2 linked regions of the Homo sapiens genome follow. The protein of the gene in region 1 binds, or shares a complex with, the protein of each later gene. Each region holds a gene or a part of one and is shown on either strand. Other genes may lie near its edges. A codon is read from its position in the direction of its gene.

What was found.
Region 2: the proteins of HASPIN (region 1) and H3C15 are in contact, whole or in part, in a crystal structure (PDB 4OUC), measured with the Homo sapiens proteins. Residues at the interface, in NP_114171.2 of Homo sapiens: Glu492 (codon at 15,477), Gly493 (codon at 15,480), Val494 (codon at 15,483), Asn522 (codon at 15,567), Ser586 (codon at 15,759), Ala587 (codon at 15,762), Asn588 (codon at 15,765), Glu613 (codon at 15,840), Asp649 (codon at 15,948), His651 (codon at 15,954), Trp652 (codon at 15,957), Gly653 (codon at 15,960), Leu690 (codon at 16,071), Asp707 (codon at 16,122), Asp709 (codon at 16,128), Leu710 (codon at 16,131), Thr712 (codon at 16,137), Gly713 (codon at 16,140), Asp714 (codon at 16,143), Gln718 (codon at 16,155), Phe719 (codon at 16,158), Tyr722 (codon at 16,167); in NP_001005464.1 of Homo sapiens: Ala2 (codon at 5,150), Arg3 (codon at 5,153), Thr4 (codon at 5,156), Lys5 (codon at 5,159), Gln6 (codon at 5,162), Thr7 (codon at 5,165), Ala8 (codon at 5,168).

The regions. Positions count from the first base shown.
Region 1 is NC_000017.11:3,709,933-3,727,016, forward strand, and holds HASPIN (serine/threonine-protein kinase haspin), read left to right. Parts: upstream 1-13,970; 5' UTR 13,971-14,003; coding exon 14,004-16,400; 3' UTR 16,401-16,767; downstream 16,768-17,084. Other genes in the region: ITGAE (integrin alpha-E isoform 1 precursor), read right to left, coding at 4,915-5,010, 6,756-6,866, 10,375-10,470, 13,356-13,451, 13,756-13,812. UniProt on the Homo sapiens protein: Serine/threonine-protein kinase that phosphorylates histone H3 at 'Thr-3' (H3T3ph) during mitosis.
Region 2 is NC_000001.11:149,847,509-149,860,175, forward strand, and holds H3C15 (histone H3.2), read left to right. Parts: upstream 1-5,099; 5' UTR 5,100-5,146; coding exon 5,147-5,557; 3' UTR 5,558-5,617; downstream 5,618-12,667. Other genes in the region: H2AC19 (histone H2A type 2-A), read left to right, coding at 3,606-3,998. UniProt on the Homo sapiens protein: Core component of nucleosome. Nucleosomes wrap and compact DNA into chromatin, limiting DNA accessibility to the cellular machineries which require DNA as a template.

The sequences.
Region 1 (17,084 bases):
ACAAAACAAACAAAAATTAATAAAATGAAAGTTTCCCTTGATTCCATATACTGAATCTGTTCCTAGTTCAAGTAATGGTAAAATTCTGGTGCCATTATAATATAATTATGACTAGAAGACCCAGAAAATCTTAACCAAATACCCCTCCTTGTAAATGTATTAGAGATGTGCACAGAATAATGCAGTAGTGCAGATTATTTAAGACTGCAGGAGGCCGGGCGTGGCGGCTCACGCCTGGAATCCCAGCACTTTGGGAAGCCGAGGTGAGCGGATCACTTGAAGTCGGGAGTTCAAGACCAGCCTGGTCAACATGGTGAAACCCAGTCTCTACTAAAAATACAAAAATTAGTTTGGTGTGGTGGCATGCACCTGCAGTCCCAGCTACTCAGGAAGCTGAGGCATGAGAATCGATTGAACCTGGGAGGCGGAGGTTGCAGTGAGCCGAGATCATGCTACTGCACTCCAGCCTGGGAGAAAGAGCAAGACTCTATCTCAAATAAATAAATAAATAAATAAATTAATAAAATGAAAGTTTCCCTTGATTCCATATACTGAATCTGTTCCTAGTTCAAGTAATGGTAAAATTCTGGTGCCATTATAATATAATTATGACTAGAAGACCCAGAAAATCTTAACCAAAAACCCCTCCTTGTAAATGTATTAGAGATGTGCACAGAATAATGCAGTAGTGCAGATTATTTAAGACAGCAGGAGGCCGGGCGTGGCAACTCACGCCTGGAATCCCAGCACTTTGGGAAGCCGAGGTGAGCGGATCACTTGAAGTCGGGAGTTCAAGACCAGCCTGGCCGACATGGTGAAACCCCATCTCTACTAAAAATACAAAAGTTAGTTGGGCGTGGCGGCATGCACCTGCAGTCCCAGCTAATTAGGAAGCTGAGGCATGAGAATCGATTGAACCCAGAAGGCGGAGGTTGCAATGAGCCGAGATCGCACCACTGCACTCCAGCATGAACGAGAGCGAGACCCTGTCTCAAAAAAACAAAACAAAACAAAAAAAACTGCTGTTCCCTCCAATAACTGCATCCAAAGTTCAGCGGGTCCCAGCTCAGTCCTTTTCTGGGTAGCAGAGTGGCCCTATGGCATGACTCACTGTTCTTGGATCTATGCAAGCTCTACCATTTCCTGTCCCAGGCAGAGGGTGAAAAGGAAATGAGAAAGGCCTAGCACCTAAAAGGCAGCTTGTAGAAGAAAGACCGGCTGGGAAAGTACCCCATGTGCTTTCTGTTCTCCTTTGCCCTGGTACAGGATAGTGAGTGCAGATTCGAATAACCTGTTTCTCTCATGATACCATCTGAACTTTGGAGGGATGAAACCAATGAAACCAAGCAGGTGTGAAAACCTAAATTGGCCACGTTATTTAGACCTCATTCAATTACGAGAAAAGGTTACTCCACAGGGCTGAGCCCAGCACTCATTCTTTTTTTTTTTTTTTTTTTTTTTTTTTTTTGAGACGGAGTCTCGCTCTGTCACCCAGGCTGGAGTGCAGTGGCGCGATCTTGGCTCACTGCAAGCTCTGCCTCCCGGGTTCAAGCGATTCTCCTGCCTCAGCCTCCAGAGTAGCTGGGATTACAGGCACCCACCACCACGCCCAGCTAATTTTGTATTTTTAATGAAGATGGGGTTTCTCCATGTTGGTCAGGCTGCTCTCAAGCTCCCGACCTCAGGTGATCTGCCCACGTCGGCGCCTCCCGAAGTGCTGGGATTACAGGCGTGAGCCACTGCGCCCGGCCTCATTATTTATTTATTTATTTATTTTTTTGAGACAGGGTCTCGCTCTGTTGCCCAGGCTGGAGTGCAGTGGCACGATCTCGTCTCACTGCAAACTCTGCCTTCTGGGTTCAAGCGATTCTCATGCCTCAGCCTCCTGAGTAGCTGGGACTACAGGTGTATGCCACAGACCTTGGCCCAAGCCATAGCATATGAATTTGTAAAATCTAACCATGTCGCACTTAAAAGTGTCTTCCTCCTCATTAAGTAGTTCCTGATGTAGTTCCCCCGATTACAGCTGCCTTGCTCTAACGCCAATTGGATCAGCACGACTCAGTAAGTCAATAACAAACAGGCTTCCCAGTGACGATGGAAGTGGGGTCTTATTTGCAATTTTAAAAAGTATAAAAAGCAGGGGCTTTTATATAATATGAAAACTTGGACACAACTCCTGAGCACAACAGGAAAATAAGTAAGCAAACTTACCTGTGTGTTTTCCCTCAAAGGCAAATTCCACTGAAACAACCCAAGAGTTACAAGGAAGGGGAAAAGCCTGTGGCAGCATTGGAAAACAGAGAACAATATCATCAAGTGACCGATAGCACAGACGGATTTCTGAACGAAATGAAGATGATGGAATCAGATCAACAGGGAAGCAGATGGTGCCCAACAGCCTAGTGATGTAACACTGGCAAGGTACGGGGCTCCATGAGAGGTGAATGGGCTGCTCCAACCAAGCCCTAGAAACTACCCAAAGGCAGAGCAGCCGGGGCTGGGATAACAGGCAGGTGTGAGGCAGGCAGAGGAGGGCCAGAAAAGCCCTCCCATTACAACCAGGTACACGGTTTACTTCTCAGAGCTCTCCACGTCCTAGTCAAAGAAGTAAGGGTAGCCAAAAGTAGAAATATCAGAAAGACTCCAAATTGCCATTATTTGCAAATAAAATTGTCTCCTTAGAAAAATCCCAAAGAATCAACTAAAGAGTGATTTAAAAACAGTTTGGCCGGGCCCGGATTTGGCTCATGCCTGTAATCCCAGCACTTTGTGAGCCTGAGGCGGGTGGATCACCTGAGGTCAGGAGTTCGAGACCAGCCTAACATGGTGAAACCCCATCTCTACTAAAAGTGCAAAAATTAGCTGGGCATGGTGGTGGGTCCCTGTAGTCCCAGCTACTCGGGAGGGTGAGGCAGGAGAATTGCTGGAACCCGGGAGGCGGAGGTTGCAGTGAGCAGAGATCACACCACTGCACTCCAGCGTGGGCGACAGAGTGAGACTCCGTCTCCAAAAAAACAAAACCACAGTTCAGTAAAATGGCCAGATAAGATAAACATTCAAAACCACCAACTGTTCTAAGTGCAAACTCTAAACAGTCGGGGGAAAAAACGGTATTTTCACACAGTAGCAACAAAAGCATAATAACAGGTCAGGCGCAGTGGCTCACGCCCCAACACTTTCAGAGGCTAAGGCAGGAGGATCACTTGAAGCCAGGAGTTTGAAATCAGCTTGGTCAACATAGCTAGATCCCATCTCTACAAAAGAAAAATTAAAAAATGAGCCGGGCATAGTGGCTTGCACCTGTAGTCCCAGCTACGCAGGAGGCTGAGGCAGAGGACGGCTTGAACCCAAAAGTTCAAGGCTGCAGCAACCTATGACTGCATCACTGCCCTCCAGCCTGGGCAACACAGTGAGACCCCCCCAAAATAAATAAACAAATAAAAATGCAGCTGGAAGTAAGTCTTTATAAATTAAGACCCCTTTGAAGAAAATTATAAAACCTTGCTGCAGAGTGTTTTTAAAAATCTCAGCATTGCCAGGCGCGGTGGCTCATGCCTGTAATCCCAGCACTTTGGGAGGCTGAGGCAGGTGGATCACCTGAAGTCAGGAGTTTGAGACCAGCCTGACCAACATGGAGAAACCCCATCTCTACTAAAAATACAAAATTAGCTGGGCGTGGTGGCGCATGCCTGTAATCCCAGTTACTCAGGAGGCTGAGGCAGGAGAATCGCTTGAACCCGGGAGGCGGAGGTTGCGGTGAGCCAAGATCACACCATTGCACACCAGTCTGGGCAGTAAGAGCAAAACTCTGTCTCAAAAAAAAAAAATAAAGTAAAATAAAAATTAAAAAATAAATCGCAGCAAGCGGAGTAGAAAGGAAATCTATAAAGATATCAATGCTCCCAAACTTAACCTGTATGTTTAAATTAAAACCCCAAAGAGTTTCTTCTGGAAATCTGAAAAATTGATACTTAAGAATTATCTGAAAGGATACAATCGATAATTTTTTTTTGAGACAGTCTTGCTCTTTTGCCCAGGCTGGAGTGCAATGGCGTGATCTTGGCTCACTGCAAGCTCTGCCTCCCAGGTTCACGCCATTCTCCTGCCTCAGCCTCCCGAGTAGCTGGGACTACAGGCACCTGCCACCGCACCCGGCTAATTTTTTTTATTTTTAGTAGAGACGGGGTTTCACCGTGTTAGCCAGGATGGTCTCCATCTCCTGACCTCGTGATCCACCTGCCTCAGCCTCTCAGAGTGCTGGGATTACAGGCGTGAGCCACCGCACCCCGCCTATTTTGTTTTTTTCTTTTTGAGATGGAGTCTCACTCTGTTGCTAGGCTGGAGTGCAGTGGCACGATCTCGGCTCACTGCAACCTCCGCCTCCCAGGTTCAAATGATTCTCCTGCCTCAGCCTCCTGAGTAGCTGGGACTACAGGCACCCGCCACCATGCCCAGCTAATTTTTGTATTTTTAGTAGAGATGGGGTTTCACCATGTTGGCTAGGATAGTCTCGATCTCTTGACCTCGTGATCTGCCTGCCTCAGCCTCCCAAAGTGCTGGGATTACAGGCGTGAGCCATCATGCCCGGCCACAATCTATCATTTTTTAAAAATAAGAATGAAAACTTGCCCTATCAGGCAAAATGTACTGCAAATCCTAAGTAATACTGTATTTCCAGATTAAAGGCACTACTGCAAAGAAAAGTGTAAATTTATTTAATACCAAATGTTTCCTAAGTTTACTTTTTGCACAATGCACAGACACTTTTGGGACAATGTATGGTTAAAAACTAATATTCTACCAACAGCTCCATGCTGCTCTAGATCATCCTGAAGGAAAAAGTAATGCAAAGGATGCTGGGTCTCCAAGTCCCAGGACTGGCTGATAGCCTCTCCCAGTGGATAGCAGGTCCTAATTCTCTTCTTCGAGCAGATTCTCTGATTTCAGCTGGGCCTTCCTGATGCTCTCCAAGTTCAGTTGTTGATATTTTCTTTTAAAAAAGCCACACTGAAACAAAGGAAGGAAAAGTCCAGTTACAGGCCAAAGATAGCCATCTGTTTCAGAAAACCGGCATTCTGGCTGTTGCCTAAATAGCCCCTATATTCCTCTGCTTCTCATACTTACTACTCCCTTCTCCTAACTTACTCTGAATCTCTCCTGGAGAGTCCAATCCTTCAAGACCTCTGGTGCTCATCCCTCAATCAGAACTGACTCCACCTTCCTCTGAACCCTGCTCTCCCGAGCAGCTGAACCTTTTTAACTTATTTTGCAAAGCATGATAATTTCGGCTGTACTGGATCTAATCTTATTTATGCAAAAATACTCAGTATAGCCTATGATGCTGAAGACAGAAGGAGATCAAGTACAGCTTCCTACATCAAGCTCATCATCTAGTAGGAAAAAGAGATAATTACAACACAGTGTGATGACTGCCATTTGGAAGGGTTTCTAGAAGGGAGCTCACAGCAAACACACAGAAGCCAGCACAGAGGACTCAGGAGTCTCTAGACCGCTTTCAGGGAAGACAGTGAGTGAAGTGAGCAGTCATGGAGGGCATTCCTGACAAGAAAAGCAGCCTACGCGTACGCAGAGGCACGAACCTATTTAGGGAATAGTTTGACTTGTTGGGAGAAAAAAGCAAGGTCAGGTGCTTATGCCTGTAACCCCACCACTTCGGGAGGCCAAGATGAGAAGATGGCTCGAGCCCCGGAGTTTGAGACCAGCCTGGGCAATATAGGGAGACCTCATCTCCACAAAATTAAAATTAAAAAATTAGCTGGGTGTGGTGGCATGCACCTGAGTAACAGTCCCAGTTACTCAGGAGACTAAGATGGGAGGATCACCTGAGCCTAGGAGTACGAGGCTGCAGTGAGCCCTTAACTGTGCCACTGAGCTCCAGCTTGGGGGACAAAGACCCTGGTGTTTATTTTTAAAAAAGAGGCTGGGAGTGGTGGTTCATGACTGTAATCCCAGAACTTTGGGAGGCCGAGGCGGGAGGATCACAAGGTCAGGAGTTTGAGACCAGCCTGGCCAATATGGTGAAACCCCGTCTCTACTAAAAATACAAAACAATTAGCCAGGCATGGTGGCACATTCCTGTAATCCCAGCTACTCAGGAGGCTGAGGCAGGAGAATCTCTTGAACCCGGGGTCAGGGTGGGGGGAAGGGAAGGTTGCAGTGAGCCGAGATCGCACCACCGCACTCAAGCCTGGGCGAAAGAGCGGAACTCCGTCTCAAAAAAAAAAAAGAAAAAAAAGCAACACTTAAGGGCAGAGACGGGTAGCGGACAGAGAGGAGAGGATCTTAAATAGCAGTAGAAGAGTTTGCACATTAAGACAGGGGAAGGCAAGGAAAAGATTTCAACAGGGGAACAACAGTCACATCTGTTTTAAGGCCTTACCGTTAAGGCCTCTTCCAAGTAAGTTATAAATGCTGGCCTAGGGTTGACCTTCCAGGCCCTATTGAACTCACAGGTAACCGAACATAACAGTATTAAGTTCTGGGCCTTGAGAATAGGGAGGTACCAAAGAAATATATATAAAATCACTCTTTATAACTCAGAGTTTTCTCTTTTCAGACAGATACTGTTTTACTCATTTGTCTAAATGGGGGTGTGCAGTTGAAGGAGGAGAAAAAAGTGGCCACGAGGCCAGGGCAGCTGCTCTAAGTCAGAGGTTGGCTGTCCTAAGGAGTTCTGTGCCCAAAACTAGAGCCCAGTCTTCCCTCACTGTGATGCCATGAGTAGAACTGACCTTGAACAGGATGACCAGAATCACGATCAACACCAGAAGTCCACCAACGCTGCCTTTAATGATGATAGGCAAAGAATGGTACTTCTCATCTTTCAGGAAGACGACAGTGATCTAGACAAGACAAAGAGATCGCCCAATAAATCAGGTGAAGCAAACAAGGAAAAAATCCTACATGTTATTTTAAGGAGCAAAATACGAGGACTTGGCAACAACCCGTGTATTGATCAAAGCTGATGACAGTAAAGCAAAAAGCTAGATATTCCCTGATGCAGCATTTTAGATCATCTAAAACTATCCAATCACCCAAATACTTCGTAAGAAACTATTCTGGCCCCTTATCTAGAAGGGCTAGGTCTGTCAGGAGATTATGACCTTCTGTTAAAGATGCTCTGACAGCTTGAAAGAGGGTCCCACGGAATCCGGTCTCAACACAGGACTGTGAGGCTGTCACGCCGCTACACTGCTCTATGTCCCTGAGCCCCGTGCCTATGCTCTTTAAAATGATGACTTCCTTTAAATGATCTCCAAGTCCTTTCCAACTCCGTTCTGACGGCTCTTTTTGATCTTGCACAGATCCCTAAAGGCTTTGGTAATACACTTTCCCCACATAAAATATGACAAAAGTACTGGTCTTCCCCTCACCAGACTAAAAAGTGTGTATTACCTAAGGGACATAATAAATGCAAATTATATCCATGTGTACTACTTGCAGAGCTCAGCTATTAGAAGTCATCCGCAGGTTTTGTTTTCCAAAGGCTCTCCCAATTTCGGGAGTCTAATCTCTCTTCTGGCAGGGCTCAGCTAGAAAGTTCAGGAGATGTCCTTCCTGAGACCCAGGTATGGCCCTTCCAAGTTGTGGCCAGAGGAAGTTCCCAGGACTTAGGTGGGGCCAGAGAGCCAACAAGACTTCTCTGCCTGCCCAGAGCAACCCTTCACGTGTATGTTTAAGCACCAAGGTCAGGGGTGCTTTGGAGAGGTTTCTGTACGGGGTGAAGGGCTGGACAAACTTACCTTTAAGGCCTCTTCCAATTAAGTTATAAATGCTGGTTGACCTAAAGTTGACCTTCCAGTCCTATTTAGCTCATAGGTAGCTGAACTAAATAGGAGTGAAGTCCTAGGCTTTGAGAATAGGGAGGTACCATAGCAACAAAGAGGGAGGAAGAACAGAAAGAGGGCTGGAATATTCTACAGGAGAAGGAGGGGGACTCAAGACCCTGGGTTTGGGAAGTGAAAGGAAGTCCCAAGGTGACTCGGGAAACAGGCCAGATGTGAGTAGAAGAAATGTCCCTATTTCTCAAAGCCACCTCCCTTTATCTTCTTCTAAACCCACAGATTCCCAAAAGTGCCCCAAAGATGCCCAAGTAGAGGTTAAGGGAGAAGCAAGGCACCGGGTACTACTGTTTGCAGCAAACACGGATGCTGGCCTGCCCAGGGGCCCCTCTCTCCTTTTGGATTTTATTCAGGAATCATCGTTGGTCTCAGGTGATCATGACACAGCTATTCTCCTTTGCCAGTGACTGACATGAGATTCAGATCTCACTAATAAGATGTAAGAGGATGTCTCCTGGGAGCTTTTGGAAACTGTTTCATCCCTGAAAAGGGAAGGCACATGAAGAAAAATCCAACATCCTTTTGCTACTGACTTCTTGCTTCCTGTTTTGTATCCTGCCATGTGAAAATACAGCATTTGGAGATGTGGCAACTTTGTGCTGGCCATGAAGGAATGCGTCCCCCACACGGCAGAGTACAAGGACCAAAGAAGCCAGGCCATCGCCCCAGGCCGGCCTCCCTCACTGGATAAACAGCATATGCCCTTATGCTGCATGAGCTGGATTTTCCCTTTCTTGTGGCTGAAATGCATTTGGATACAGTTTGTTTATACTCATAGAGTCACTGTAAGTCAGGGGCTTATTGTCAGGAACTACTTAACACTTTGCTTAGGATATTGGATTTAAAGAAAGGAATTTTGGGGAATCCATGCTATAGAAATAAAAGTATCAGTAAGTAAGAGGGGGAAACATACAAATTTAAAATGTGCACATAAGAAACTTAATAGTAACTCCTCCCTGCTGGGGGCATGGGAAGGGAGAAATGAAGGAACAATTATTTTTCATTTGGTACCATTCTCTGTATGGCTTGGATTTTCTTGCTATTATTTTTATTTGTTAAAATCTGGGCAGTGCAATAATGGGGCACTTCTATTTCTTCCGTTTTCTGTATTTTCCATTTCCCTCTATTTTCTGTATTAGAAATACACTACTTAGCCGGACATGGTGGCTCATGCCTGTAATCCCAGCACTTTGGGAGGTCAAGGCGGGCAGATCACCTGAGGTCAGAAGTTCGAGACCAGCCTGGCCAACATGGTGAAATCCTGTCTCTATTTAAAAAAAATAAATAAATTAGCCAGGCATGGTGGTGGGCACCTGTAATCCCAGCTACTCGGGAGGCTGAGGAAGAAGAATCACTTGAACTGGGGAGGTGGAGGTTGCAGTGAGCCGAGATGGCACCAACGGACTCCAGCCTGGGCGACACAGTGAGATTCTTCCTCAAAAAAAAAAAAAAAAAAAAAGAAAAGAAAAGAAAAAGAAATACACTACTTAAAAATAAAAGGAAATGTTATATTGGCATGTCTAGAGAATTGCTCCTTTCTCCTCCTCCAGGGAGGAAAACAGAGGACCTTATATTTAGCAATCCAGCATCACTCTCCTGACATTCCCTCTAGTAGAGAATCATGCCTAACTAAAGAGCTCAGAGCTCACAGATAGATCACCTCTGAAGCCATGTCCAGGCAAGGGTCAACAAGAATGAAAACACAGGGTAACACACAAAGCATTCAGTCCACAAATCACAGGCATCAGTCTGACTTCTAGTCATACTTTTGCAAAAAGAATTCCAAGAGTTCCAGTATCTAGTCTAAATCTTATAAAAGATTTATGCATTCCTGAGTACTGTTTAATACTATAACTAAACACTGATACAGCACACTAAGACAGTTACTGGATACAAAAAACAATTTCTCACTTAGGTAATTCATTTTTTATTTATTTATTTATTTTTTGAGACTGAGTCTCACTCTATCACTGAGGCTGGAGTGGAGTGGTGTGATCTCGGCTCACTGCAACCTCTGCCTCCCAGATTCAAGCGATTCTCGTGCCTCAGCCTCCCAAGTAGGTGGGATTACAGGCACCCACCATCATGTCCGGCTAATTTTTGTATTTTTGGTAGACAGGGTTTCTCCATGTTGGCCAGGCTTGTGTTGAACTTCTGACCTCAGGTGATCCACCTGTCTCGGCCTCCCAAAGTGCTAGGATTACAGGCGTGAGCCACCTGCGCCCAGCTGCGAAATTTTTTTTTTTAATCAATCCATTTTCAAATCAAAGTATATACTGCAGATTCCAGCCTAGTTATTTCAACTCAGAACTCCTCAGCTTAGGCCTCTTAATTGCCTTATTTCATAAGAAGCTGACTCACTCAAAGGTCACAAAGGCAGCGATGGCAGAGCCAAGATCAGAAGTGTTAAGGCTGAAAACAGGAAGAGGGCAACAGAATGTCTGTGGAGGTGCTCAAAGGTTAGGCACAATTTTCCTTGGGCACTACTCAGAAGCCAGCCAGGAATTACCTTAGTTCTGTGGTTCTCTGCATTCAGTCCCTCATATAGAGATTTGTTGAAAGATATTTCACCAAGGATCTGCAGTTCAGTTACATCTTTTAGTAACTAGAAGATGGGGAAAGGAATGAGGGAAACAAAACATATTTTAGACATGAACTCACTGTGTTTGAACAGCCTTCACCACCTTTCCCTTTAAAGGTATTCCTGGGCTTAGTTAATGGCCCTAACGTACACAACACTACATAAAGTTACCCAAACAAGACATCTGCAGTTATTCTTCAACTTCCTTTTTTTTTTTTTTTGAGATGGAGTTTCGCTCTTTCGCCCAGGCTGGAGTGAAGTGGTGCGATCTCGGCTCACTGCAACCTCCACCCCGTCAGGTTCAAGCGATTCTCCTGCCTTAGCCTCCCGAGTAGCTGGAATTATGGGCATGTGCCACCATGCCAGGCTAATTTTTGTATTTTTAGTAGAGATGGGGTTTTGCCATGTTGGCCAGGCTTGTCTCGAACTCCTGACCTCAGATGATCTACCCACCTCGGCCTCCCAAAGTGCTGGGATTACAGGCGTGAGCTGCCGCGCCTGGCCTTTTCTTCAACTTCTTTTCCCTTGTGCCATCCAAAGTCAGTTCTTGACTGACTGACTTATTTTTGAGACAGGATCTCGCTCTGTCACCCATGCTGGAGTGCAATGGCATGATCATGGGTCACTATAGCCTCAACCTTCCAGGCTCAAGTGATCCTCCCACCTCAGTCTCCTGAGTAGCTGAGACCACAGGTGCACCCCACCACACTGGGCTAATTTTTGTATTTTTTGTAGAGATGGGGTTTTACCATGTTGCCCAGGCTGGTCTCAAACTCCTGGGCTCAAGCAATCCACCCACCTTAGCCTCCCACAGTGCTGAGATTACAGGCATGAGCCACCACACCCAGCTTATTCATTTTATTTAACGTAAGAGATTTTTCCTTTTTTTTTTTTTTTTTTTTTTTTTTTTTGAGACAAGGTCTCACTCTGTTACTCGGGCCGGAATGGAGTGGCTCAATCATAGCTCACTGAAGCTTCAAATTCCTGGGCTCAAACGATACTCCTGCCTCAGCCTCCCAAGTAGCTGGGACTACAGGCATGAGCCACCATGCGTGGCTAATTTATGTATTTATTTATTTTTAAGAAATGGGGTTTCACTATGCTGCCCAGGCTGATCTTGAACTCCTGGCCTCAAGCAATCCTCCCGCCTCAGCCTCCCAAAGTGTTGGGATGACAGATGTGAGCCACCACACTCACAATTCTTTTTTTTTAAATTATTTCTTGTATCTGTCCCTTTCTTTTCCACCCCCATTGCTACTTCTTCAGTTGAGACCTCACAAATGTCACCTGGATCACTGTAAAACATTAAACTTGATCACTTGATCACTAGTTCCCACTTTAGAATAAGTGATCAGGGAAGGCCTCTCTAAGAAAATAACACGTGTGGCCGGGTGTGGTGGCTCATGCCTGTAATCCCAGCACTTCGGGAGGCTGAGGTGGGTAGATCATCTGAGGTCAGGAGTTCAAGACCAGCCTGACCAACACGATGAAACCCCATCTCTACTAAAAATACAAAATTAGCCGGGCGTGGTGGCTCACGCCTGTAATCCCAGCACTTTGGGAGGCCAAGGAGGGCGGATCACCTGAGGTCAGGAGTTCAAGACCAGCCTCACCAACATGGAGAAACCCCATCTCTACTAAAAATACAAAATTAGCCGGGTATGGTGGCGCATACCTGTAATCCCAGCTACTTGGGAGGCTGAGGCAGGAGAATCGCTTGAACCCGGGAGGCGGAGGTTGCAGTGAGCCGAGATCGTGCCATTGCACAACAAGAGCGAAACTCCGTCTTGAAAGAAAGAAAAGAAAAGAAAAGAACACCTAGGTCGGGTGCGGTGGCTCACGCCTGTAATCCCAGCACTTTGGGAGGCTGAGGCGGGCGATCACCTGAGGTCAGGAGTTCGAGACCAGCCTGGCCAACATGGTGAAACCCCCTCTCTACTAAAAATACAAAAATTAGCTGGGCGTGGTCGCCGGCGCCTGTAATCCCAGCTACTCGGGAGGCTGAGGCAGGAGAATCACTTGAACCCGGGAGGCGGAGGTTGCAGTGAGTAGAGATCGTGCCACTGCACTCCAGCCCGGGTGACAGAGCAAGACTCCATCTAAAAAAAAAAAAAAAAAAAAGAAAAGAACACCTGAGCTAAATTTAAGAAGAAACCACCTACGTCAGGACCTAGAGGAAGAGCAGTGTCAAGCAAAGGAACAGCAAGTACAAAGTCTTGTGGCCAGAATAATGCTGTACTGGCGAGCTAGAAGAATAGGACAGAATAACCCGATTATAAAAGGGGCAGTGGGAGAGAAAGGCGAGTACTAGGAGATGAAGTTGAAGAATTAAGCAGAGACCAGATCAAGTACTGCCTTGCTCTGGCCATGAAAAAAGTATGGATTTTAGTCTAAGTGTGCTCAAGCATCAGTTTTGTTTGTTTGTTATTTTTAATAAGCAGGGGAATGGCACAATCTAATGTCTGCTCTTAGAAGACGGATAGCTGTTACGTGGGAATTATTTGTAAAGAATGTGGGAAAAGCAGAGGCAAGAAAGGCAGGCCGAAGGTTATTGCAACAGCCCTGGCAAGAAAGGGTAGCTTGAATTACAACGGCAGTGGAAATGGAGAGAAGTGAATGGGTTTAGGATATATTTTGGCCCTGAAATGGCAGGGCTTGCTGCTGGAATAGACGTGGGGATGTAGGAAAGAGGAGTCACAGGTAATCCCTCGAGTTCCTTGTACTGTAACTGGAGTATATCTCCCTCCTGAGGGTAGCTAAGGAACGGGTTGGGACAGAGGGTTGGTTTTTTGCACCAAAAGATCTATTTTGGACATGGACATGTTATGCAAAGATGCTATTATCTCTTCTAGGGGCGATGCCCGTGAGCAACTGGATAATCAAATCTGGAGCATTTCAGTCTCAAACACCTCCTCAGAGTGATCCCAGGAGATCTCTGCAGCCACGGTGACATTTTCTTTATCTGAAGCGATGACACAGCTCACTGAATGCCATTCTTCCACATGCTGGAAAAGCGAGGTCTAGTGAACACAATTCCTTTCCGTGCGGAAAGTCTGAAATCTTTTTAACACTTCGGACACAGAGCATCGTAAGGTCCCAGAATAGAGGGTGTGAGCAATTTCAGCGCTCACCTCGGCCCAAGCGAAGCTCCAGCGGGAGCAATTGAGACCCAGGGACGAAGCTAGGGAGGGCCTGGCAGCCCCCGGCACTGGCCGGCAGGGGTAACCCAGGAAAAACAGTCTCCTGGCCTCTCGTTACCCGCTTCAGGCCCTCCGCCCTCCCCTGGCCTCTCGGGACGGCCGCGCTTACCTGAACCGAACTGTACGCACAAGCGCGCTCCTGACTCCAGGTGCACACCGTGGAGGCCTGAAACGAGAGCCATGACCGCGACGCGCTGAACAAACCAAGCCGCCAGTTTTCCGTCCCGTCCCGGCCCCGGCCCTGGCGAGGTGCGCATGCGCAGGGCCGGGAGCTAGGACCCCGCGGCAGGCGGGCGCGTCCGCGTCGCACGGAAGTCTCGCGATGTTTGCGTTTGAACCTCTTGGCGGGTGCCGGCCATGGCGGCTTCGCTCCCGGGACCTGGGAGCCGGCTTTTCCGCACATATGGGGCTGCGGACGGCAGGAGACAGCGGCGGCCGGGCCGGGAAGCCGCGCAGTGGTTCCCGCCGCAGGACCGGAGGCGTTTCTTCAACAGCAGCGGCAGCAGCGACGCCAGCATCGGCGACCCCTCGCAGTCCGACGATCCTGACGATCCCGACGACCCCGACTTCCCCGGCAGCCCGGTGAGGCGGCGGCGGAGGCGTCCCGGCGGCCGAGTGCCCAAGGACCGGCCCAGCCTGACCGTGACCCCAAAGCGCTGGAAGCTGCGAGCTCGCCCAAGCCTAACCGTGACCCCAAGACGCCTGGGGCTGCGAGCTCGGCCCCCGCAGAAGTGCAGCACACCCTGCGGCCCGCTCCGACTTCCGCCCTTCCCCAGCCGCGACTCCGGCCGCCTCAGCCCGGACCTCAGCGTGTGCGGCCAGCCCAGGGACGGCGACGAGCTGGGCATCAGTGCCTCCCTGTTCAGCTCTCTGGCCTCGCCCTGCCCCGGGTCCCCAACGCCAAGGGACAGTGTCATCTCGATCGGCACCTCCGCCTGTCTGGTTGCAGCCTCAGCCGTCCCGAGCGGCCTCCACCTCCCAGAAGTCTCCCTGGACCGAGCATCTCTCCCCTGCTCCCAGGAGGAAGCGACAGGAGGAGCCAAGGACACCAGGATGGTCCACCAAACCCGCGCCAGCCTCAGGTCAGTTCTCTTTGGCCTTATGAACTCAGGAACCCCTGAGGATTCTGAGTTTCGGGCAGATGGGAAGAATATGAGAGAGTCCTGCTGTAAAAGGAAACTGGTGGTGGGAAATGGACCAGAGGGTCCAGGTCTGTCAAGCACAGGCAAGAGGAGGGCCACAGGCCAGGACTCTTGTCAAGAGAGAGGGCTTCAAGAGGCCGTCCGGAGAGAGCATCAGGAGGCCAGTGTTCCCAAGGGCCGCATTGTGCCAAGGGGAATAGACAGGCTGGAGAGAACTAGATCAAGCCGGAAGAGCAAACATCAGGAGGCAACGGAAACCTCTCTCCTCCATTCCCACCGCTTTAAAAAGGGCCAAAAGCTGGGAAAAGATTCGTTCCCCACCCAGGACCTGACTCCTTTACAGAATGTCTGCTTTTGGACCAAAACCAGGGCTTCCTTCAGTTTCCACAAGAAGAAAATTGTGACTGATGTGTCAGAGGTCTGCAGCATCTATACCACTGCCACTTCTCTCTCTGGATCCCTCCTATCAGAATGTTCAAACCGGCCTGTCATGAACAGAACAAGTGGTGCTCCGTCCTCTTGGCACTCCTCCTCTATGTATTTGCTAAGCCCCTTAAACACTCTAAGTATTTCAAACAAAAAGGCATCTGATGCTGAAAAGGTTTATGGGGAATGCAGTCAGAAGGGTCCTGTCCCCTTTAGCCATTGCCTTCCCACAGAAAAACTGCAACGCTGTGAGAAGATTGGGGAAGGGGTGTTTGGCGAAGTGTTTCAAACAATTGCTGATCACACACCCGTAGCCATAAAAATCATTGCTATTGAAGGACCAGATTTAGTCAATGGATCCCATCAGAAAACCTTTGAGGAAATCCTGCCAGAGATCATCATCTCCAAAGAGTTGAGCCTCTTATCCGGTGAAGTGTGCAACCGCACAGAAGGCTTTATCGGGCTGAACTCAGTGCACTGTGTCCAGGGATCTTACCCTCCCTTGCTCCTCAAAGCCTGGGATCACTATAATTCAACCAAAGGCTCTGCAAATGACCGGCCTGATTTTTTTAAAGACGACCAGCTCTTCATTGTGCTGGAATTTGAGTTTGGAGGGATTGACTTAGAGCAAATGCGAACCAAGTTGTCTTCCTTGGCTACTGCAAAGAGCATTCTACACCAGCTCACAGCCTCCCTCGCAGTGGCAGAGGCATCACTGCGCTTTGAGCACCGAGACTTACACTGGGGGAACGTGCTCTTAAAGAAAACCAGCCTCAAAAAACTCCACTACACCCTCAATGGGAAGAGCAGCACTATCCCCAGCTGTGGGTTGCAAGTGAGCATCATTGACTACACCCTGTCGCGCTTGGAACGGGATGGGATTGTGGTTTTCTGTGACGTTTCCATGGATGAGGACCTGTTTACCGGTGACGGTGACTACCAGTTTGACATCTACAGGCTCATGAAGAAGGAGAATAACAACCGCTGGGGTGAATATCACCCTTATAGTAATGTGCTCTGGTTACATTACCTGACAGACAAGATGCTGAAACAAATGACCTTCAAGACTAAATGTAACACTCCTGCCATGAAGCAAATTAAGAGAAAAATCCAGGAGTTCCACAGGACAATGCTGAACTTCAGCTCTGCCACTGACTTGCTCTGCCAGCACAGTCTGTTTAAGTAAGCTAAATGTATCTTACTGCCCCGAAATGAGAGGAGACTGGTCTTGAAGCCTCTGGTGCTGTTTCAACCTCCATCCCCACAGGAGGGTGGAACTCCCATTCTCACAGGTTTCCAGTCAGCTTTTCAAACAAGAATTTTGTTTCCAAATGGAAACTGAAATATTTGTTGAAATGTTTAAATTTGCTGATAACAAATGTTCTGAAAGAAGTAAACTAGCCGGGCACAGTGGCGTGCGCCTGTAGTCCCAGCTACTCGGGAGGCTGAGGCAGGAGGATCGCTTGAGCCCAAGAGTTCATATCTAGCCTGGTCAACATAGCAAGACCCCTGTCTCTATTTTTTTAAATAAATAAACTACATGTGAAAACAAACGTTTATATTTATAAACCCTCTTTTTTTTTTTTTTAATTTTATTGAGACAGAGTCTTGCTCTGTCACCCAGGCTAGAGTGCAGTGGTGCGATCTCAGCTCACTGCAACCTCCGCCTCCCGGGTTCAAGCAATTCTCCTACCTCAGCCTCCCGAGTAGCTGGGATTGCAGGCATACACCACCATGCCCGGCTAATTGTTTGTATTTTTTTAGTAGAGATGGGGGTTTCACCATGTTGGCCAGGCTGGTCTCGAACTCCTCACCTTGTGATCCACCCACCTCGGCATCCCAAAGTGCTGGGTGATTACAGGAGTGAGCC
Region 2 (12,667 bases), on another chromosome or scaffold:
ATAAGAAGACATGGAGACAGCCGGGTGCAGTGGCTCACATCTGTAATCCCAGCACTTTGGGAGGCCAAGGCAGGTGGATCACCTGAGGTCAGTTCGAGGCCAGCCTGACTAACATGATGAAACTCCATCTCTACCAAAAATACAAAATCAGCCGGGCGTGCTGACGCATGCCTGTAATCCCAGCTACTCGGGAGGCTGAGGCAGGAAAATTGCTTGAACCCGGGGCACAGAGGTTGCAGTAAGCCAAGATCATGCCACTGCACTCCAGCCTGGGCAACAAGAGTGAAACTCCATCTCAAGAAAGAAAGTAAAAAAACATGGAGACATACATGAAAAAACTGAGGTAGAGATTACAGTTATGCTGCCAGAAACCAAAGAACAAGTGGGGCTACCAGACACTGAAAGACAGGAGTCTTCCCCTAGTGGGTTTGGAGAGAGCATGGCCCTACCAACACGTTGATTTCAAACTTCTAGCCTCTAAAACCATGAAAGAATAACTTTGTGTTGTTTTACGCCATACAGTTTGTGGTACTTTGACAGCCCCAGGAAATTAGTACAACTACTAAAATTTTTTGATTTAGTTTATTTAAAATTTTTAAATAAAATTTCACATCTGAAAAAAAACCCTGGACATTTTTCCTGTGATGGTAATATTAGTCTTTAGCCTTAGTCAAGTATTAACATTTGGACATCTGTTCCAAATATGTAATTGGAGCAACTCTGTCCTAATTGACCCTATTTGACTTGAGACCTTTCATGAAAGGTCTTTCCTTTTATCTAGGAAATTATTATTCCTGAAATATTTCAAGATTCAAACTGGTATAAGTAAATATGTCAGACAAATTGGCTTAACTGGAAGTCCAAAGGTGCAGCAGGGATCCAAGGTTGGCTGAACTCCATGAGTGGCTCAGTTCCCTGATTCTCCCACACTGTGTCCTCCTCTGCATATTGTCTATAATCATTCTTGCCTTCATACCTAAAGACAGTCCATCCTCCTGCTGCCTCTTGAAAGCAAATAAGCTGCTTTCCCAAAAGATAATAGCATACTACACTCCCCTGCTGAGTTAGTTGTTACTCAGTTCACTTCCTGAAATGTTAAATGCCAATGAGTTTGATCTAGATTCCTGAACTAATCACAGTAAGAAGCAGGTTCAGACAGCAATTAAACTAATCAGGCCAACCCTAAGAACTGTGGGTAAAATGCGTTTCTGGGAAACACATGTGGCAGCACTATAACAGAAACAATTAGAAAAATAAATGCTACCTAGTCAATAACATACATTATAGGACTATGAACTACTAAGTTACACCTCATGACAAACACATGAGTAATAAAGTCTAGAAAAATACTTAAAGGTGATGTCCATCATTCTCATTGCTGTGTTCACAGTTCACAGGTAGACCCTAAAGACAGGCTTGTGTTGTCTTTACTGAACCCTAGATGCATCTCTCAAACTGTCAACTGCACATATCCACTTGAATAGCAAAGAGCTTCTCAAATTTCAGTCGGAACTCTGGATCTCCCTTCAGTGTCCCAACGAATATCTTCTCTCAGTGTTCTATCCTAATAGTACCACTATCTACACAGTTGCTCAAGCCAAAAATCTAGGGGTTTCACTGTTAGCTAAATCCTGTTCCTCAGCCACACCTATTAATTCTACCTCAAAGATAAAATCCAACATTTGTTTCCATTACCACCATTGCACTCCAGCATGTCATTTATCCGTTGTTTTTCACACTTTAGCATATATCACCATCACCCAGAAAGCTTAACACAAATAATGGAACCTGGGAATTTTCATTTTTAGTAACTTCAAGTAATGCTGATGCTGCTGGTCTGGAGAGACTTTAAGTCTTAATCACTGTTCCAGCCCACAACACTGCAACAGCCTCCTAATTGCTTTCCTCGCTTCTATTGTGGCCAGCCTAGGATTTACGATCCCCAGAGCAATCAGTATAATATTTTGAGGTTAATGAGGCTGTGTGATTCCAAGTCCAGTGTTCCCAAAGCAGAAAACAAACCTAATCAACCTCCCTTGCAAATTGGTGGTCCTTCTCCTCTTCAGGGATCCCAAACTCTGGCTTCAGAAATCGTATATTTTGTTGCTATTGTATGGAACAAACCCTTAAACTGGACAAGCTTTTCCGAGTGATAACTCTTGGGGAAAAAAACCATTTAATGGTATTGGGTAGATTTTAGGGTATCTCAACTAGAAAGCGCAGAAGGTTATCGGTGTTAACTCCTGGTTATCAAAATCGAACTTCCATCTACCTCCTTAAGGAATTTTCACATGAGTGGTGGTGTAGGCACGTGTTTGTGAACCAATGATATAAAAACCTCAGGTTTCTCGATACCATATATAAAAGTTGAGCTATTCCCTTTTAAGTACACATCTGAGAGCATACAATGCATTTAATCTCTACCTTCATTTTACCACTGAAGAGCGGACCCAACCTTTGTTCATATACACAATTTGATCTTACATAAACTTATCAAAATTAACACTGCGTTTCTCAACAGGAAACAATCTCCTGGGCACATATTCACGGGTACGTAACCAGGCCAAAGACAGTTCAAGAGCAGCCCTCTAAGGCAAGCCCCAACCTATCTATGCCATAGTAAGATACCACTATCAATCTATGTAAGCTTACTTATAGCAATGCCTATGTGAAAAGAAAATAGTTATCTGTGCTTGGTGTTGTGTGCTCTCCTAAAGTTAACCAGACGTGAAGCCAAAAACATCAACTGGGACTGACAACACAAGAAAGATTCTTTAACTGAGGTGGTTAAATGGCCCTGAAAAGAGCCTTTGGAGACAAAGCAGCCGGCGACCCGCGGAGGGAGGGAGGGAGGGAGCGAGCGAGCGCCAGGTCCCGGCAGGGACTCACTTGGAGCTGGCGTACTTGGTGACCGCCTTGGTGCCCTCGGACACGGCGTGCTTGGCCAGCTCGCCGGGCAGCAGCAGGCGCACGGCCGTCTGGATCTCCGGGACGTGATGGTGGAGCGCTTGTTGTAGTGCGCCAGGCGGGACGCCTCTCCCGCGATGCGCTCGAAGATGTCGTTGAGGAAGGAGTTCATGATGCCCATGGCCTTGCACCAGATGCCGGTGTCGGGGTGGACCCGCTTCAGCACCTTGTACACGTAGATGGAGTAGCTCTCCTTGCGGCTGCGCTTGCGCTTCTTGCCGTCTTTCTTCTGGGCTTTGGTGACGGCTTTCTTGGAGCCCTTCTTGGGAGCCGGCGCGAACTTTGCAGGCTCAGGCATGGCCAGACCCAAGACCGACACCGACCCCCGAGAACGCAAGCAGAGCGGTAGGCTCGGGGTCTACCGGAAACGACTGTGTACTTACAGAGGCTGTGCGCATGACGCTGCGTTATGGTTCGCGAGTTTTCCGCGGCGCGCAATGCGAGGGAGACGAGATTATGTAAATGAGTGGATTCTGGCTGAGCTATCCTATTGGCTATCGGGACAAAATTTGCTTGAGCCAATCAAAGTGCTCCGTGGACAATCGCCGTTCTGTCTATAAAAAGGTGAAGCAGCGGCGTTTTCGGCGACTTTCCCGATCGCCAGGCAGGAGTTTCTCTCGGTGACTACTATCGCTGTCATGTCTGGTCGTGGCAAGCAAGGAGGCAAGGCCCGCGCCAAGGCCAAGTCGCGCTCGTCCCGCGCTGGCCTTCAGTTCCCGGTAGGGCGAGTGCATCGCTTGCTGCGCAAAGGCAACTACGCGGAGCGAGTGGGGGCCGGCGCGCCCGTCTACATGGCTGCGGTCCTCGAGTATCTGACCGCCGAGATCCTGGAGCTGGCGGGCAACGCGGCTCGGGACAACAAGAAGACGCGCATCATCCCTCGTCACCTCCAGCTGGCCATCCGCAACGACGAGGAACTGAACAAGCTGCTGGGCAAAGTCACCATCGCCCAGGGCGGCGTCTTGCCTAACATCCAGGCCGTACTGCTCCCTAAGAAGACGGAGAGTCACCACAAGGCAAAGGGCAAGTGAGGCTGACGTCCGGCCCAAGTGGGCCCAGCCCGGCCCGCGTCTCGAAGGGGCACCTGTGAACTCAAAAGGCTCTTTTCAGAGCCACCCACGTTTTCAAATAAAAGAGTTGTTAATGCTGGCCACTCTCAGTCCAGCGTTCCTCAGTAGTGAATAGCGAACCTGGAGCTGACGGGACGGGACGGGACGGGACGGGACGGGACGGGGCGGGGCGGGGCGGGGTGTGTGTGTGTGCGCGCCGTCTTCCATCTGGAGCACGTAACTGCCTTGGCTCTTCGATGAGTGGGTCCCCAGTCCTAGGACTTCCCAGGGCAGGTGCAGGCACCAAACGTCCTGGGCGCCGCCACGGTCCGCTCCACACAGTCACAAACACCAGCGCCGCGGGCAGTACCCAACGCGCTGAAGTGTTGCGCGCGGAGCGCGCGCTTCCCTAGTGGTTTCCGCAGGCTATGGCCGGACACTTAGACCTAGTCTGGCACCAGCGGGACGTGCTCCTCGTCCCCACCCCCGATGGGGAGGGCCCTGAGCGGGTAGTGCTCGCTAGTGTGGCGGAGCTGGGTCTTGGCTTCACTGAGCTGACTTAAGTCTTAGTTTCTGTTTTGTTTTCCAAAGCGCCCTGGCGGCGGAGAGTAAGGGCCTCGGAGGCGGAATCTTGCGTCCTGGGGGCGGGCACCTCTCCCACCCAAAAGGCACCCGACAGGCGAAAAACGATCCGCCAAGTAGCAACTGGGGGCGGGGGGCAAATGGAAGAATGAGGTTCCACGCGGGAGCTGTAGGGCGCAGCAAGAAAGGGGGGGTATTGCGGGCAGTGTGTTCTAAGGAAGCGAAGGGCGGAAAGGGAACAATCTGACAAAGCTGCAATGGAAAATGACTTTCACCCTGAAGGAAAGGGGAAAAACAAGCTTGCGAAACTTCGCCAACTGGTAAGTAGAAAGTGAGGCGGGGTGGGCGGGATTAGGGAGGAATCTGCCCAAGCCAACCGGTGACTTTAGGACGGGTGACGTCACAGCCAATGGACAGCCAGCGCGGGATTTTCAATTATTGTTCCGCCCAATCGGGAAAAGACTGTGCTTATAAAGACGGCTGCGGCGGGGCTAGGAGCTCGTTTTTCTCCCCGCCGCTGCGCTGGTAAGCCTGTGTTTTGGTTCGCTATGGCCCGTACTAAGCAGACTGCTCGCAAGTCGACCGGCGGCAAGGCCCCGAGGAAGCAGCTGGCCACCAAGGCGGCCCGCAAGAGCGCGCCGGCCACGGGCGGGGTGAAGAAGCCGCACCGCTACCGGCCCGGCACCGTAGCCCTGCGGGAGATCCGGCGCTACCAGAAGTCCACGGAGCTGCTGATCCGCAAGCTGCCCTTCCAGCGGCTGGTACGCGAGATCGCGCAGGACTTTAAGACGGACCTGCGCTTCCAGAGCTCGGCCGTGATGGCGCTGCAGGAGGCCAGCGAGGCCTACCTGGTGGGGCTGTTCGAAGACACGAACCTGTGCGCCATCCACGCCAAGCGCGTGACCATTATGCCCAAGGACATCCAGCTGGCCCGCCGCATCCGTGGAGAGCGGGCTTAAGAAGTGGCGGTTCGGCCGGAGGTTCCATCGTATCCAAAAGGCTCTTTTCAGAGCCACCCACATCAGCACTTGGAAGAAGCTGTACCGCTTGCCCTCCGTGCTCCTCCGGCATTAGAGCGGGGAAGGCACTTCCGCTTAGGCTCCCAACAAAACGGGGTCGGGTCCCCCTGCTGCGGTGCCGTCTTGAGCTTTGCCGACTTCGGCCAATTGGCCTATCCGCACTGGCCGGGCTGCGGACGCTTTCCTGGGCGCCGGCTCGCGGGCTTTGGCGGTCCGGCTCCCCCCGCGCGTGACCGGGGCCCTGCGTGGCGGGGGGGCCGGGGCAGGAGAGACGGGGCGTCGGGCACGAGGCCAGGGGTCACTAGGGGGACGCTCAGGGCTCGCGGTCCTGAGCGCGGCTGGCCTTTGCGGAAGTGGAGCGCCACACGCCCGTGCTTCGCGCCCAAACCGGCCTCACCCGGCGCGGCCATCCGGCTAGGGAGGGAAATGACCACCTCGGCCTCGCCGGGGTTCTGCGGACAAACGTGGGGAGAACTGCGCTGGGGCTGCCGTTCAGTCCCCGCGCCACCTCCACTAGCACAGTGGTAACCCCCATATCCTGCCCCTAAGCCAAAATTCCCGGGGGCACGGGGTGTGGGCGGAATTTTGTGAATCTGGGCTTTATCGAGCCGTTCCCTGTCCATGTCCACAGAAGGAGATTCACTATTCCAGTGAAGGCACTCGGTCCTCTTAGAAGCTGCATGGTATGTCTGGATTTTCTGTCCAGACTCAGTAGTTCCTTTACGTTGTTTTCGTCGGACATGTGGGCAGACGCTGGTGCCCGAGTTCAGATCCTTGGGAAGACAGTAGATCAGACAGGAAGAACGTGGGCCTCCGTTGGGCAAATGAAGCTCTTCGCCTTAGGAAATCGTGACAGGAGGCCACAGAGGTGATCTCTACAGTCTCTGGGAGCTGGGAAGTCCAAGGCCTCTTAGTGGGAAAGTGAGGCAGGGTCTTGCAGAGCCCACTCTACACACGGCCAGATACAAATGGCTGTAGAGGTCTTAGATAACACCTTCTCGGTCATTTATTTGCACCTCAGAAGAAGCCAGGGCTTCGGTTTTCTGTTTGTTTCATCACAGTTGACAGGTTAAAAGCATTCACTGCAGCGATCTATGAGAATTAAGAGGGGAGAAGGGGAAATGGAATAAAACTTCGTTTTGTAAAGCTGCCATTTTGCCTTTCCTGAGGCGTGTTAAGCGAGGAGAGCAGCGTAGGTGAGCTCTGCTGGGGACTGCCACATGTTTCTGCTCCAGGGTCACAGCAATTTCTAGAGCATGCCTCTGGGTCTCTGCCGAGACCCTCGTAACCTGCTTAGGCCCACAATGTATGGGCGGTATTCTGACTTCAAAAAGTAGTGACTTTCAGAGGTGGGTGGGTCACTATCTCTGCACCCAGCTTCTCAGGCCCAGTAGTAACTGAGCAGAGACTGGAACCTGGGGATGTTGGTGTCAGACATCTAGGTCCTCTGACTGCCCCCACAAGGTCACACTCCTTTTACTCACCAGTCTGGGTACCTCTAAACTCCAGGAGGTCTCCCTGGCTGAATCTCAAAAGGAAAATTTCGTGGCATTTTTTATATCCAGTCAGGAATAGAATTCATTACATCTTGTGGTCCTGGCACTGTGAAGGCCTGCACTCACAGGAATCTGTCAGTCTTCGTATTTGTTTGCGAGACCAGCATAAGCTGAATTCATCAATACAAGATAACATTCTAAAATGTTAAGTTTTAACATTTAATCATTCCCTGTACTTAAATCATTGTCTACCCTCAGGTGAGAGTTAAAGGATAATTAAGGATAGGGTAAAGAAATACTCTTCCTCTGACTAGGCATTGTGGCTCACAGCTGTTAATCCCAGCACTTTGGGAGGCCAAGTCGGGCGGATTGCTTGAAGTCAAAGTTCCAGACCAGCTTGGGAAACATAGCGAGACCCTGTGTCTCTACCAAAAAAAAAAAAAAAGACAGAAAGAAAAATGAAAAAATTAGCCGGGGGTGGTGCCATTTGCCTGTGGTCCCAGCTACTCGGGAGGCTGAGGTGGGAGAATCGCTTAAGTCCGGGAGGCGGAGGCTGCTGTGAGCTGAGATTGTGCCACTGCACTCCAGTGTGGGTGACAGGGAGTGAGACCCTGTCTCGAAGAAAACCCACCTCTTCCTCTAATAACCAGCTTCTACGTGGCTACCTTGGTTGCCAGTAAGTCCACTCTGAATCTGTGGCTTTTATGAAGTGAAAAACGTGCTTTGTTCACATTTAATTCTGCCTTAGGCTAGTGGGGGACAGGTGTGTGTGTGTGTGTGTGTGTGTGTGTGTGTGTGTGTGTTTAGAGGGAAACTACGTGGTAAGAGACATGGCCACGTTTACACTGATTTTTCTTCCTTAGAAGAGGACTTGTCCCCTGGGTCCACTCTCCTGGTCACCCTTATCCTTCTCTAGGTCCCCATCTCAGTCTTCTCATGTCTTTCTCTTCCCCATCAATATTCCTGGTTTCCCCCATGCTGGCCTTGGCCATCTTCTTTTCTCCCTGCAACTCAAGTGAGATTGATTGCCTGCTTTCACTATTTCTGTCCCTTAGCTAAGCGCTCCCAAATTGCTATCTTCTGCTGAGACCCTATCCTGAGCTCTACACATTTTGTGTGTGTGTGTGTGTGTGTGTGTGTGTGTGTGAGAGAGAGAGAGAGAGAGAGAGAGAGGGAGATAGAGAGAGAAAGAGAAACAGGGTCTCACTCGTCCAGGCTGGAGTGCAGTAGCACAATCAAAGCTCACTGCAACCTTGGACTCCTGGGTTCAGGGGTCCTCCCACCTCAGCCATCTGAGTAGCTGGGACTACGGGCACACACCACCAGGCCCAGCTAATTTTTTTTATTTTTTGTAGAGTCAGGGTCTCACTTCATCGCCCAGGCTGGTCTTGAAGTCCTGGGCTCAAGCCCTCCTCCCACCTTGGCCTCCCAAAGTGCTGGGATTATAGACGTGAGCCACTGTGCCTGGCTACACCAATGTTTCTAACTGCCTGGTAGACAGGTCCTTCTGGATGGATACTAGGCACTTCAAACCCAGCTTATTTCCAAAACCACATGCCTCATCTTGCTTTCCAAGCCCATTTGTTTCTTTCCACATTCCCCATCTTCCTGGAAGACACCTTCATTAGCCCCATCTGTTCTGGTTGGGTGTCCCTTCCTCTTGTCCTCTGTCCAAATCTCATGAGTTCCAAATATTACTAAATCTGTCTTCTGACTTTCAATTGTATCACCTTTTCTCCGTCCACCCATGACCATGCCTTAACTGAAGTCCTCGCCAGCTCTGGTCTAGTAGATTACATAGTCAGGCTGGTCTTTCTGCCCTGCCATTGAGCTTCCACTCCGTATGACAGCTATCTTTTTTTTTTTTTTTTTTTTTATGAGACGGAGTCTCGCTCTGTCGCCCAGGCTGGAGTGCAGTGGCACGAGCTCGGCTCACTGCAACCTTGGCCTACCGGGTCCATGCGATTCTCCTGCCTCAGCCTCCGGAATAGCTGGGACTATAGGCGCCCACCACCACGTCCGGCTAATTTTTTGTAGTTTTGTATTTTTTGTATTTTGTGATCCGCCCGCCTCGGCCTCCCAAAGCGTTGGGATTACAGGCGTGAGCCACCGCGCCCGGCCAAGAGCTATCTTTTAAAAACTGAGGGTTTTTTGTTGGTTGGTTGGTTGGTTGGTGTTGCTGTTTTGAGCCTGTCACTTTCATGCTTAAAAATTTTCCACGACCTTCCCATTCCCTTCAGAATGAAGTTCACATTCTTTTGCATGGCAGTTCAGAGCACCGGAGGTTAATTACTAGGAAGGACTCTGGAGTTAGACAAACCCAAGTTTGATTCCTAGCCTTGTCCATGTAAACAGGTGCATGACTTCAGGAAGCAAATCTCAACAGGTTTAACTTTTCCCATTTGTAAAACAACGAGTAACTTGCTCGTTGTTTTGTTGGAAATCATGAAAGTGACAATTTCTGTAAATTGCGGTGCTCATGCCTGTAATCCCAGCGACTCAGGAGGCTGAGGCAAGAGGATTGCTTGAGGCCAGAAGTTCGAGGCTGTGGTGAGCTGTGACTGTGCCACTGCACTTCAGCCTCGGCAACAGCAGTGAGACCCCATGTCTAAAAAAACAAAGGACCTAGCACAGTAGTAGCACAGTATCTGGTCCAGAACAAGCACCCAATTAATTTGTGCTACTCTATTAATAGTTACTAATTTAAAAAAAAACTGAAAATATTATACATCTAGTTCTTTATGTTTCCCACAGCCTTCCCAGGTTTCAGATGTTCTTGCAGCTGAACAAGAATGTTTAGCCCCACACGACATCTGCAATCTCCAAGTACACAATATCTTCACACATTCCATTTCTGTCCAGAATGTCCTCCCCTTCTCTGTAACCCTGAGAACCCCCATTCTTCAAGATTCAGCCCTGTGAGCCTTCCCTTGCTCTTCTGGTTTTTTGTTTTTTCTTTTTCTTTCTTTTTTTTCTTTTCTTTTTTCTTTTTTTTTTTTTTTTTGAGATGGAGTCTTGCTCTGTCACCCAGGCTGGAGTGCAGTGGCGCGATCTCGGCTCACTCCAACCACCGTCTCCCGGGTTCATGCGATTCTCCTGCCTCAGCCTCCGGAGTAGCTGGGACTACAGGTGTGTGTCACCACGCCCAGCTAAGTTTTATATTTTTAGTAGAGACGGGGTTTCACCATGTTGGCCAGGATGGTCTCGATCTCTTGACCTCATGATCTGTCTGCTTTGGCCTCCGAAAGTGCTGGGATTATAGGCATGAACCACAGTGCCCGGCTCCCTTGCTCTTCTTTGCCCTCATCTCTTTGGGCCCTCCTCCTTGCCTCTGCCCTCTCCTATCTTAATACCCCTTCCCTTCCTTAACCTCAGCATTAGGCTGGCAACATTTCTCAGGGTAAGGATTTGTCTTTGTTTATTTCCATAGTAGCAGCAGTACCCAAGCAACGCCTGGTCACAGTAAGTCGAGTGAAACCATCTCTCAAAAAAACAAAACAAAACAAAACAAAAAACGAACTACATTGAGTGGGAAAGGCAATAAATATATCACCTTTGGTTTCTGTATCACTTCATGGCCTCATTCTTCTTTCACACAGAACTTTTCATTTGATCCTTAAAATAATCCTGTGAAAAAGGCAGGAATTCTCAGTAATTGGCCGGGCACCGTGGCTCATGCCAAAGAAAAAGAGGCCAGGCGCGGTGGCTCACGCCTGTAATCCCAGCATTTTGGGAGGCCGAGGAGGGTGGATCACCTAAAGCCAGGAGTTCGAGATCAGCCTGGCCAACATGGCAAAACCTCCATCTCTACTAAAAATACAAAAATTAGCCCGGCATGGTGGTGGGCACCTGTAGTCCCAGCTACCTGGGAGGCTGAGGCAGGAGAATCACTTGAACCCGGGAGGCGGGGATTGCGGTGAGCCAAGATCGTGCCACTGCATTCCAGCCTGTGTGACAGATCGAGACTCCATCTCAAAAAAAGAAAGAGGAAGGAAGGGAAGGAAGGGAAGGAAGAAAGGAAGGAAGGAAGGGAGGGAGGGAGGGAGGGAGGGAGGGAGGGAAAGAAAGAAGAAAAGAAAAAAAGAAAAGCTGTTACCTGCATCAGTGGCTTTCAACCTTTAATGTGTATCGGGAGGGCTTTTTTAAAGCACCGATTACTATGTCTCACCCCTCAGTTTCTCATTCAGTAGGTCTGGCATGGGTCCCAAGATTTTATCCGAGGTGATCAGTGCTGCTAGATGAGAGGCTACACTTTGAGAACCACTAATTCAGACAATGGACGTGTTTTCTCCCCCACTCCCTTTCTGCTTTATCTTCAAATTTTTGATCTCCTTCTTTAGTGGATCTTGGTGCGGATCAGATATATTCATCAGCATTGCCTTTAAAGTTAAAAACAATCAGTGATATTCGAAATAGCAATGCTGGAAATCACAGGTCAGATTTAAAAGGGAAAAGGAAACATCTTGAGCATTAAAACCTCTATTTCTCACCTGGACATCTTCACAAATGTTATTCTTGCCACTTCCTCCCTGCCCTCGCCCCCTTTACTATGTATCTCAGTAGGACGCCAATCATTCTGCTCTTTATTCAGAGTCCGACACAAGCCCCCACGTCCATAGCCAAGTTTTCCCCGGTTTCCCAGCAGCCAGTGACTTCTGTAGCATTAGGATTCTTATAGTAGTTATTGTCTACATTTCTCAGCAGATTGAATATGTACTGCCTCTTACTACTGGACTGTTTATTCTTAAATGTGTACAGTATGGATTTATGTCGTCTATATATTATGCATTTATTTGTCTTCTTCGTTGTGATGGTAAGCTCCTGGAGGGCAAGTCTTGCATCCACTGCTTTGCTGGCAACCCGACTGGTAAGCTTCTGGAAGGCAAGGCTTGCATCCAGTGCTTTGCTGGCAACCCGATTGCTAAGTACCGTGTTTTAAGCTTAGTTCAGTCTCAAGTGTTTGCAGCCACATCTGAAGACCAATAAAGCAACTGCTGGTTTATCCTTTGGGAGCTGACAGAATTTCTTCTCCCAAATACATACACAGTAAAATCATAAGCCTGGAATGAAGAAAAAAAAAATCTTACGGGCAATGCAATGGCTGCAAAACTATAAGGATTAGAAATGTGAACCCACATTTTAATCCAAATTAGGGCAATTTAGAGGTGGTAGCGTAAAGAATAGCTTGCTGTAATATACGCCATGCTGATACAGAATTGGCTTTTGGCCTTGTCAAAATTAAATTGTGCTTTCTGTATTGATGGTGGGCATGTTTCTGCAGGTCTCTCATTCTAAGCTACAACAGGCCCTAAGAGGTAGAAGTCACATACCTGAATTACCTGTGAAGTTGCTTTCAGATCATATCGTTGGTTCACTCTTACAGAAGGATCACTTTAAAATATCTCTGCATTTGTATCCTTGCAATGCCACAACTAAAAGACAGTTATCTCATAGGTCCTTGATTAAATTAGGAGGCTTTTTATTGAACACAAGAAATGATACTTTTCAGGCACTGGGCAGATAACTTGCTAGAAAGGCATTTTTTAACTGTGCT